Homo sapiens: one gene and its partners. The protein of the gene in region 1 purifies or fractionates together with the protein of each later gene. This does not show direct contact. Each region holds a gene or a part of one and is shown on either strand. Other genes may lie near its edges.

Evidence for each region.
Region 2: the proteins of NLRP2 (region 1) and BCL7B purify together in Homo sapiens (affinity purification with mass spectrometry; one large-scale study listed by BioGRID and IntAct). This does not show direct contact.
Region 3: the proteins of NLRP2 (region 1) and TTF1 purify together in Homo sapiens (affinity purification with mass spectrometry; one large-scale study listed by BioGRID and IntAct). This does not show direct contact.

The regions. Positions count from the first base shown.
Region 1 is NC_000019.10:54,986,766-54,990,419, reverse strand, and holds part of NLRP2 (NACHT, LRR and PYD domains-containing protein 2), read right to left. Parts: intron 399-3,654; coding exon 228-398; exon of another isoform or gene 27-227; intron 1-26. UniProt on the Homo sapiens protein: Suppresses TNF- and CD40-induced NFKB1 activity at the level of the IKK complex, by inhibiting NFKBIA degradation induced by TNF. When associated with PYCARD, activates CASP1, leading to the secretion of mature pro-inflammatory cytokine IL1B.
Region 2 is NC_000007.14:73,535,720-73,538,291, forward strand, and holds the end of BCL7B (B-cell CLL/lymphoma 7 protein family member B), read right to left. Parts: intron 2,295-2,572; coding exon 2,215-2,294; intron 1,672-2,214; coding exon 1,579-1,671; 3' UTR 637-1,578; downstream 1-636. UniProt on the Homo sapiens protein: Positive regulator of apoptosis. Plays a role in the Wnt signaling pathway, negatively regulating the expression of Wnt signaling components CTNNB1 and HMGA1.
Region 3 is NC_000009.12:132,379,248-132,382,901, forward strand, and holds part of TTF1 (transcription termination factor 1), read right to left. Parts: intron 1-3,654. UniProt on the Homo sapiens protein: Multifunctional nucleolar protein that terminates ribosomal gene transcription, mediates replication fork arrest and regulates RNA polymerase I transcription on chromatin.

The DNA of each region.
Region 1 (3,654 bases):
AAAGCCCCTTCTTGTGAACTCCCCACCTTCTATCATGCACTGGTGATCCTATGAAGGAATAGGAATGAGAGAAGAACAAAATTCACAGGCCATCGGCCTGGATCTAAACATGGGAACAGGTGTTCACATCAGCGAGAGGTTCCATACAGCCAAGTCAGGCATGACCATTGCTCGTCTGTGGCCCCAGATCGAAAGCACAGCTGCTCTGTAAGAGAGGAGAGACTTACGACAACCTCTGCAGAAAGCACTTGGGGTGTCTCAAAGTTGTGTACAGCAACTTAGCACCCTCATCCAGAAGCTCATTGTCGGAGAGGTTTACGCACGTCAGGGACTGGTTGACTTCAAGGGCCAAGGAGAGATCAGCCCACTGCTGAGTGGTAGCGGAACAAGACACCAACCTGTGGGAGAAATAGGACCACGTCATTTTTTTTTTTTTTTTGAGACTGAGTCTCACTCTTGTTGCCCAGGTGGCGCAATCTCGGCTCACAGCAACCTCCGCCTCCTGGGTTCAAGTGATTCTCCTGCCTCAGCCTCCCGAGTAGCTGGGACTGCAGGCATGCACCATGCACCAACATGCCCAGCTAATTTTGTATTTTCAGTAGAGGTGGGGGTCTCTCCATGTTGGTCAGGCTGGTCTCAAACTCCCAATCTCAGGTGATCTGCCCACCTCGGCCTCCCAGAGTGCTGGGATGACAGGCGTGAGCCACCGCGCCCGGCAGAACAAGTCATTCTTGAGAATCTAACCGTGGAATCGTCTTTGGTTTACATCTCACTGGTTGTGTTATACCCCGACTTGAATTATCTGGAGCAGCAGTTGTCAAAGGGTGGTCAGACCAGTGGCACCAACATCGCCCAGGAATCAGCTGGAAATACAGAACTTAGTCAATCTGACTCTAATGTTGGATGCAGACTCCGCTAACCTATGTTTCATTGTTTGGTTTTTTGAAAGGGAGTTATTTATGCTCTGTCGCCCTGGCTGGAGTGTAGTGGCGCGATCTCAGCTCACAGCAACCTCTGCCTCCCAGATTCAAGAGATTCTCCCGCCTCAGCCTCCTGAGTAGCTGGGATTACAGGCAAATGCCATCTTGCCTGGCTAATTTTTGTATTTTTTAGTAGAGATGGGGTTTTACCATGTTGGCCAGGCTGGTCTCAAACTCCTAACTTTGGCCGGGGCAATGGCTCATGCCTGTAATCCCAGCACTTTGGGAGGCCGAGGTGGGCAGATCAGGAGGTCAGGAGTTTGAGACCATCCTGGCCAACATGGTGAAACCCCGGCTCTACTAAACATACAAAAGTTAGATGGGCGTGGCGACACGTGCCTGTAGTCCCAGCTACTCAGGAGGCTGAGGCAAGAGAATCACTTGAACCCAGGAGGCGGAGGTTGCAGTAAGCCGAGATCACTCCACTGCACTCTAGCCTGGGCGACAGAGCAAGACTCCGTCTCAAAACAAAAAACTCCTGACTTCAAGCGATACACCAGCCTAGGCCTCCCAAAGTACTGGGATTACAGGCAGGAGCCACCATACCCAGCCCACTAACCTATGTTTCAAGGTGCCCTGTTCATCCGGAAAATGTGTTAGAATAAATTCATAAGAAATGAGTGGCTGGGCACAGTGGCTCATGCCTGTAATCCCAGGACTTTGGCAGGCCAAGGCAGGTGGATCATGAGGCCAGGAGTTTAAGACCAGCCGGAACAACATGATGAAACCCCATTTCTCCTAAAAATACAAGAATTAGCTGGGCGTGGTGGCACATGGCTGTAATCCCAGCATTTTGGAAGATGGATGTCACTTGAGGTCAGGAGTTCGAGACCAGCCCAGCCAACACGGTGAAACCCCGGCTCTACTAAATATACCAAAAATTAGCTGGGTGTGGTGGATTGCCCGAGGTCAGGAGTTTGAGACCACCCTGGCCACCAGCATGGCGTAACCCTGTCTCTACTAGAAATACAAAATACTAGAAATACAAAAATACAGGTGGGTGCCTGTAATCCCAGCTACTTGGGAGGTTGACGGAGAAGAATCACTTGAACCCGGGAGGCAGAGGTTGCAGTGAACCAAGATTGTGGCACTGCACTCCAGCCTAGGAGACAGAGCAAGACTATATCTTGAGAAAAAAAGAAAGAAATTAGTGACCCAAATCTTTAATTCACCCAATATTCCCCCTCACCCTGCATCCCATTATTCTCAGGCAAAAAGAAAAGAGGGTAATTGCAACGGTTAGTAATGATAGCAGCCACTATTGAATGCATGGGCTTGGTTTCATTCAACCTTCCAATACCTGTAAGATGTACAGCATCCTATTCAACTAAGATCCCATTAAGCAGCCTAAGATTGTATCAGTAGAGCCAGAGCAATCAATTTTTTTTCTGTCCTCGAGATGGAGTTTTGCTCTGTTGCCCAGGCTGGAGTGCAATGGCGTGATCTTGGCTCACTGCTACCTCTGCCTCCTAGGTTCAAGCAATTCTCTTGCATCAGCCTCCATGAGTAGCTGGGATTACAGGCACGCGCCACCATGCCCAGCTAATGTTTTTGTATTTTTAGTAGACGTGGGGTTTCACCATGTTGGCCAGGCTGGTCTTGAACTCCTGACCTTGTGATCCACCTGCCTTGGCCTCCCAAAGTGCTGGGATTACAGGCATGAGCTACCGCACCCAGCCAAGATTTTTTTTTTTTTTTTTGAGACAGTCTCACACTGTTGCCCAGACTGGAGTGCGGTGGTGTGATCTCAGCTCACTGCAACCTCCGCCTCTCAGGTTCAAATGATGCTCCTGCCTCAGCCTCCTGAGTAGCTGGGACTACAGGCGTGCGCCAACATGCCCAGCTAATTTTTGTATTATTAGTAGAGACAGAGTTTCACCATGTTGACCAGGCCGGTCTTGAACTCCTGACCTCAAGTGATCCACCCACCTCGGCCTCCCAGGCGTGAGCCACTGCGCCTGGCCCAGGGCAATAATTTGAGGCCAATGACCACCTACTACACCAGTGTGGCCAAGTGAGGCTTCATGGAACCCCATGATGCATGTAGGTTCTCATCGCCTGGGCAGCCACTGGACAGCTTCCCAAGGGGAGAGCTCTCAAACCAGAGGACTAACAGAAAAGGGGCAACTTGATGTTCCTGAAGGGTTCTTGCTTGAAAAATGTCAATAGCTGGTATTCTGAATCATCATACAGGAGAAGCATGAACCATGAGTGAATGATCTCTGATAGAAGATAAAGATTCTGGGCTGGGCACGGTGGCTCATGCCTCACTTTGGGAGGCCGACGGCGGGGTGGGGTGGGGGTGGGGGGGTAGATCACCTGAGGTCATGAGTTCGAGACCAGCCTGGCCAATGTGGTAAAACTCCATCTCTACTAATAATACAAAAATTAACCAGGTGTGGTGGTGTGCACCTGTAATCCCAGCTACTCAGGAGGCTGAGGCAGGAGAATCACTTGAACCTGGGAGGTGGAGGCTGCAGTGACCTGAGATCATACCAACGCACTCCAGCCTGGGTGACAGAGCGAGACTCCATCTCAAAAAGAAAAAAGAAAAAGAAAAAACCAAAACCAAAACCAAAACATAAGGACTCTGGCTGGGCATGGTGGCTCATGCCTATAATCCCAGCACTTTGGGAGCCTGAGGAGGGCAGGTCACCTGAGGTCATGAGTTCGA
Region 2 (2,572 bases), on another chromosome or scaffold:
GGAATTTGGTTTTGTTTTTTGAGATGGAGTCTCGCTCCGTCACCCAGGCTGGAGCGCAGTGGCGCAGTCTTGGCTCACTGCAACCTCCACCTCCCAGGTTCGAGCAATGCTCGTCTCAGCCTCCCAAGTAGCTGGGACTAAAGGCGCCTGCCACCATGCCTGGCTAATTTTTGTATTTTTAGTAGAGATGGGGTCTCATTTTGCTGGTCAGGCTGGTCTTGAACTCCTGAGCTCAGATGATCCACCCACCTCAGCCTCCCAAAGTGCTAAGATTACAGGCGGGAGCCACTGCGCCTGGCCTGGTTTTTATGTTTTAATTTAAAAATATTGTTTAGATAGAGATAGGGTCTTGCTGTGTTGCCCAGGCTGGTCTCAAACTCCTAGCCTCAAGTGATCCTCCTGCCTCGGCCTCCCAAAGTGCTGGGATAAGAAGTATGAGCCACCACGCCCAGCGAGAAGCATAATTTGAACTACGTGACAGCTTCAAAGGGAGGCTAGAAATCACTGTCATGAAGTCCACACTGTGGGAGTGAAAGGATGGGCAGGCCCAGCCCACAGTGACCCCACAAGCACTCAGCCACCACCCCCACCCCGGCCCGCAACCTTCAAGAAGGAAGCACTCAGATACCAACAGGACATATTTCAAATAGTTTAATTTTAAAAATATTCTATTCAGTGCTAAAATATGTCTTCACTCACTGTTGCCCATTTCCATTTTCTTAAACTTTTTTGAAACAAAAAATAAAATCACAAAGTTCAATTCAACATGCAGATTTCAAAGAAAAGGGAGCTTTCTAGAAACTGAGCTGAAGGGGTACTGTGGGGGATGGGTACTGTTGTCAGAACCTCAAATTCTTGCTGGGGCAGTTTGTGACAAGAGGCAGGGATGCTGGAATGACAGGTAGAGGTGAGAACAAAGCTGCGTGTGTGCAGATGTGTGTGCTGAGGGCAGGGGATGGGGACGGCGGCCACAAAGGGCTGTCAGCAGCTAGGGTGCCCGTGAGAGGTAGGACCACCTCAGGCATGGGCAGAGCTGGCAGGACAGCAAGAAATCTAGACGGACTCTCTGCCCTTGTGTGGAGAAAAGCCCTTCCCTTCCCTCCAATGTCTCTACCCAGTCCTCCAACAGCAGCCTACAGGGCCCCCAGTCCTAGGGGAAAGTCCGGGAGTCTACAGTCTCCGTTCAAGTTCAAGTAACCTGAGGCACGCTCTCTTCTAGAAGGTGCCTTCCACATCTCTCTCTTCTCGCAGAAGCTGCCAGCAGCTCCGTCCAGAGATTCTGGAGCAGAGACTGCTGCCTGGAGGTCACAGATGAATCTTGGGGTGGCCGATGCTCCAGCCAACTTGGGGTGCAAAAAAGACATGAGCGCTCCTCTTCTCGGGAGCAAGTAGACACAGGTGCCAGGGTCAGGAAGATGATGCTACAGCCCCAAGTCCTACGCCAGCCTTCCAGCCCGGAAGGCTCATGTGTGCAGGCTCTTGACCCCAGTGCTTGCCCTTACCCCAGCAACGCGGCGCGGCCAGAACCAGAATGCAATAAATAGAGGCAGGGCCAGGAGGCGGAGGGCCGGGATGGTGCTAGCTTTCTGACGCCGTCTGCGGCACTGTGGGTTGGTCCACACAGAAGCGCTTCAGGGGCGGGGCACCTGAGTCTTCCTCTTCCTCAACGACCTAGGAGCAGGCAGAGCATGGAATGCCAGGGCCACCCCTCCCAACCAGAACCTTCCCACCCACCCGAATTATAATGGGATGTCCACTCTGCTCCTTCCAGCAGATGATCAAACATCCTCCCCTGCCTACAACCCTGGGACTCATTTCCGGCGCTGCAGATCCAACCCCACATCCACAGTCTTTCCTGGTTTTTTGACTTAGAAACTGGGAAGCCTGGCCGGGCACAGTGGCTCACACCTATAATCCCAGCACATTGGGAGGCTGAGATGGGTGGATCACTTGGGCTCAGGAGTTCGAGACTAGCCTGGCCAACATAGTGAAACCCCATCTCTACTAAAAATACAAAAATTAGCCAGGTGTGGTAGTGGGCGCCTGTAATCCCAGCTACTCAGGAGGCTGAAACAGGAGAATTGCTTGAACCCAGGAGGCAGTGGAGGTTGTAGTGAGCCAGGATCGCACCACTGCACTCTAGTCTGGGCAACAGCGAGACCCTGCCTTAAACCAAAAAAACAAAAAACTGGAAAACTCAAAGTGATTGCTTACCTGTGTCTCTAGTGGAACTGGTTCTTCCTTGGTGAGGGTAGGAGGTTCATCAGCAACTTCCGAGGAGGGCAGGGAGGGCTCTGAAAAGGCAGTAGGGTCGGCCTGAGGGCAGGGCTCCCCTGAGGCCTGGACCTGGGGGAGCTTCCTTAGAGCTGTGTGGAGGTGGCTTGGTGAGGAGGGGAGAATACTGGCCTGAGAAGCAAACATTCATTCAGGGCCCAGCTGGACCAGGTCACAGCCAAGAATGGTGGAAGGGCAAAATACGGCTAGACTGCAGAGGGCCATCTCTGCTGGGCTGGAGATATCTGGAACCGACAAAGCAGCTCATCTTGTCATCCTCTAGCCCAAACATCACAAC
Region 3 (3,654 bases), on another chromosome or scaffold:
TTTATCGTAAACATAAGATCATCATACATGTGTGATACAAATATGACACAATTTTTGTGGAATATGGAAAGCTATTGTTTATTTGGTTTAAAAAAATGTAAAGGGGAAAAAGAATCAGTAGTACAGAATGGATTCTATTTAAATTAAGATAACTTGTATCACTAGTCGAGAAGGCAAAGTATAGAAGGCAAAGTATAATGCCGGCTAACGGGCTGATGCTTACCTTGTGCTCAGCCCTGCCCTAAGCACCTTAACTGCAGCAATAAATAATCCTCACGACAACTCAAGGAGGGAGTTACCACTCTCTCCCTCGTGCTGGAGAGACGAGGAAACTGAGGCACAGAGAAGTTGCCCAAGCTCACATGGCTAATCAGGGATAGAGCTGGGACTTCATCAAGTAGTGTGACTCCAGATCCTACCCTCTTAACCATTACACTCAGGACACATACATATTGGTCACAATTCAAAGACAGATGTTCCCTGATGTTTATTTCACAAAGCTAAAAAGAGCAGATGCTTATGAGGTTTTGGTACGTTTTCAATTTACAAAACATTTCAATTTACAATAAGTGGGTCAGAAATTATTCTTAAATTGTATTTTAAAGTAAAAAACCACTAAACTTTTTGGGCACTTTTTCCTAATAAAAGGGGAACATTAAAAAACAATTAACTAATCCAGTTGTTAAAATGATTAGCATGAAGAATTTGATCTGCTAAGTATGTAGAGGTAAAAGATGATCAGATTCTTCCGACCTCTTCATCACAGCAACCACTAGCTGAGGACGTATGTGCCAGGTACCAGACAATGTCTCTTTCTCGCATTATCTTCTTTTTTTTTTTTGGATGGAGTCTCGCTCTGTCACCCAGGCTGGAGTGCAGAGGCACATTCTCAGTTCACTGCAACTTCTGCCTCCAAGGTTCAGGTTGTTCTCCTGGCTCAGCCTCCTGAGTAGCTGGGATTACAGGTGCCCACCACCACGCCCAGCTAAATTTTTGTATTTTTGTATTTTTAGTAAAGATAGGGCTTCACCATGCTGGCCAGACTGGTCTTGAACTCCTGACTTCAGGTGACCCACCTGCTTTGGCCTCCCAAAGTGCTGGGACTACAGGCATGAGCCACTGCACCTGGCCCATTATCTCCTTTAGCCTTCCTGACAGCCTATTAAACCATAATGCAGATGAGGAAACAAAGGCTCAGACAAATAGGGAACAACTGCCCACAGACTTTAAGTGGAGTCCCTGGACTCTATGCCAAATCTGTCTCACTCTGAAACCCCAGCTCTACGGCAGCCTGTGCCTTTTCCCTTCCCATAATGCTGTGCGCCCAACATGCTGCAGACCCAAGCCCATGCTTCAGGAAGCAACAAGAACTGATCTGGACGTTTTAAAACCAAGCAAGTGTTACACCTCATTAGGTGGAGATGCTATCCTTAAATCCTGCCTATATAATTCACAAAGTCTTTAAGAATCTGAGGAGACTGAACCTTCAATATAATTTTTACCATTTTGTTATTAAAACTTTGAGAGTACGTAGTATTTCAAATAGTATTTGACTAGATGCCATAATCTCTATCTTAGAGTTTTGAGATTCGTAAATCTGAAATAGGTAATCAGTTCATCAGTTACCCCCTACCTGGATTTTGTGGGGCCCTTTTATTTATTTTTATTTAATTTATTTTCTTGAGACAGGGTCTCACTCTGTCACCCAGGCTGGAATGCAGTGGCGTGATCTCGGGTCACTGCAACTTCTGGCTCCCAGGCTCAAGCGATCCTCCCACTTCAGCCTCCAGAGTAGCTGGGACAACAGGCATGTGTCACCACGTGCAGCTTAATAATCAGTTTTTAAACATGTAATTTTATTTAAAACCATAAAAACCCATTTTAGTTTTAAAAATCATGTGATCTGAAGAAATGTCACAAAGCATACACAAATTTAATGGAAAAGCTGAATTTTTTTTTTTTTTGAGATGGAGTCTGGCTCTGTGGCCCAGGCTGGAGTGCAGTGACGCAATCTCGGCTCACTGCAACCTCCTCCTCCTGGGTTCAAGCAATTCTGCCTCAGCCTCCCCAGTAGCTGGGATTACAGGTACCTGCTACCACGCCCAGCTAATTTTTGTATTTTAGTAGAGATGGGGTTTCACCATGTTGGGCAGGTTGGTCTCAAACTCCTGACCTCAAGCAATCCACCCGCCTTGGCCTCCCAAAGTGCTGGGATTACAGGCGTGAATCACCACGCCCGGCCGAAAAGTTGAATTTTTAAAAAGTGGTTTGACATTATAAAGGGCTTTGTCAATGTAAGTCGTTCTCAAGATGGGAGCTGGTGGGGTGCACATCAGCGTCACCTCCTTCAAAGCACCTGGCACCCTCCCTGCTTGGGGCCTATGATGCTGAAGAGTGGGCACCCTGCCCCTCAGATGAGCTAGAAAAGAAAAGACTTTGGGACCACGGCATGTATCTGTGAGTCCTGGCAGGGCCTGGACTAAGAATTTCCAATTCTCCACATTCAAGAAGGAAGAGACGGATTGTCCTTTCTTGTTTGGTTATAATCCCAAACCATAAATAACTAACCACCAGAACCAGTTTAAACCCTCCCTAATGGTTCCGCAGAATATTGACTAGAAACAAAACAAAATCTTTCCTAATGGACCAATGGCGACCTCACACCAGTAGCCACACTTCTGGAAGTCAGCCAGGCTGCAGCAGCCTCACCCCACTGTCTACCTTCCAAAACCAAAGGCCAAACAATCCCTCAACATCCCTGCATCTGAAAGTCACTGATCCCCGAGCCCCATGATGCTCGGCAACACGTAGAGGGCCTGTGCTCTGCAGCCCAGCTCTCCCTTGCGTAGCAAGCAGTAAGTTGAGATATCGAGAGTGGTGGGCCCTCCAATCGCAGGAACTGATTAAAATGCAAGAGCTATGTGCAGTGAAGGCTCACAGTGAAGGGAAAGAGAGACAGCTTATAAACACAAGAGCCATGTTCAATCTCACTTCTCACATGAGAAATGCAAATGAAAACCACAAGGAAACTGACAGAAGCTTAAAGAGGAACAGGATCTTTATATAGTCTTAAAATGTCTTCCCACAGCCATTTCTTACCACCAAAGGAAGAACCAGTATTTTTATACAGTGGGGAAAAGAGGCAGATGCTGCCTTAGCTAAATAATAAAAAAAAGTCAAAACGAGAATTATGTACCTTGTGACGTAATGCAGTGATAGCAAACATCAGGAATATGCTGTACTCCTGCCCGAAGGACACAGCCTGAATCTCCTCAAGAGGAAATACCAGACAAGTGCCAACTGCGGACATTCTACAAAACACCTAGCCTGTATTCCTCCAAAATTTCACTACCATCAACAGCAAAGATGGACGATCTTCATAGATTAAAAGACAGTAAGGAAGGCCGGGCATGGTGGCTCACGTCTGTAATCCCAGCACTTTGAGAGGGATTAAGGCCAGGAGTTCAAGCATAGCCTGGGCAACATGGCAAAACCCCATCTCTACTAAAAATACAAAAAAAAAAAAAAAAAAAAAAAGTCAGGTGTGGTGGCTCACGCCTGTAATCTCAGCAATTTGGGAGGCTGAGGTGGGTGGATCACTTGAGGTAAGGAGTTTGAGACCAGCCTGGCCAACATGGTGAAACCTTGTCTCTA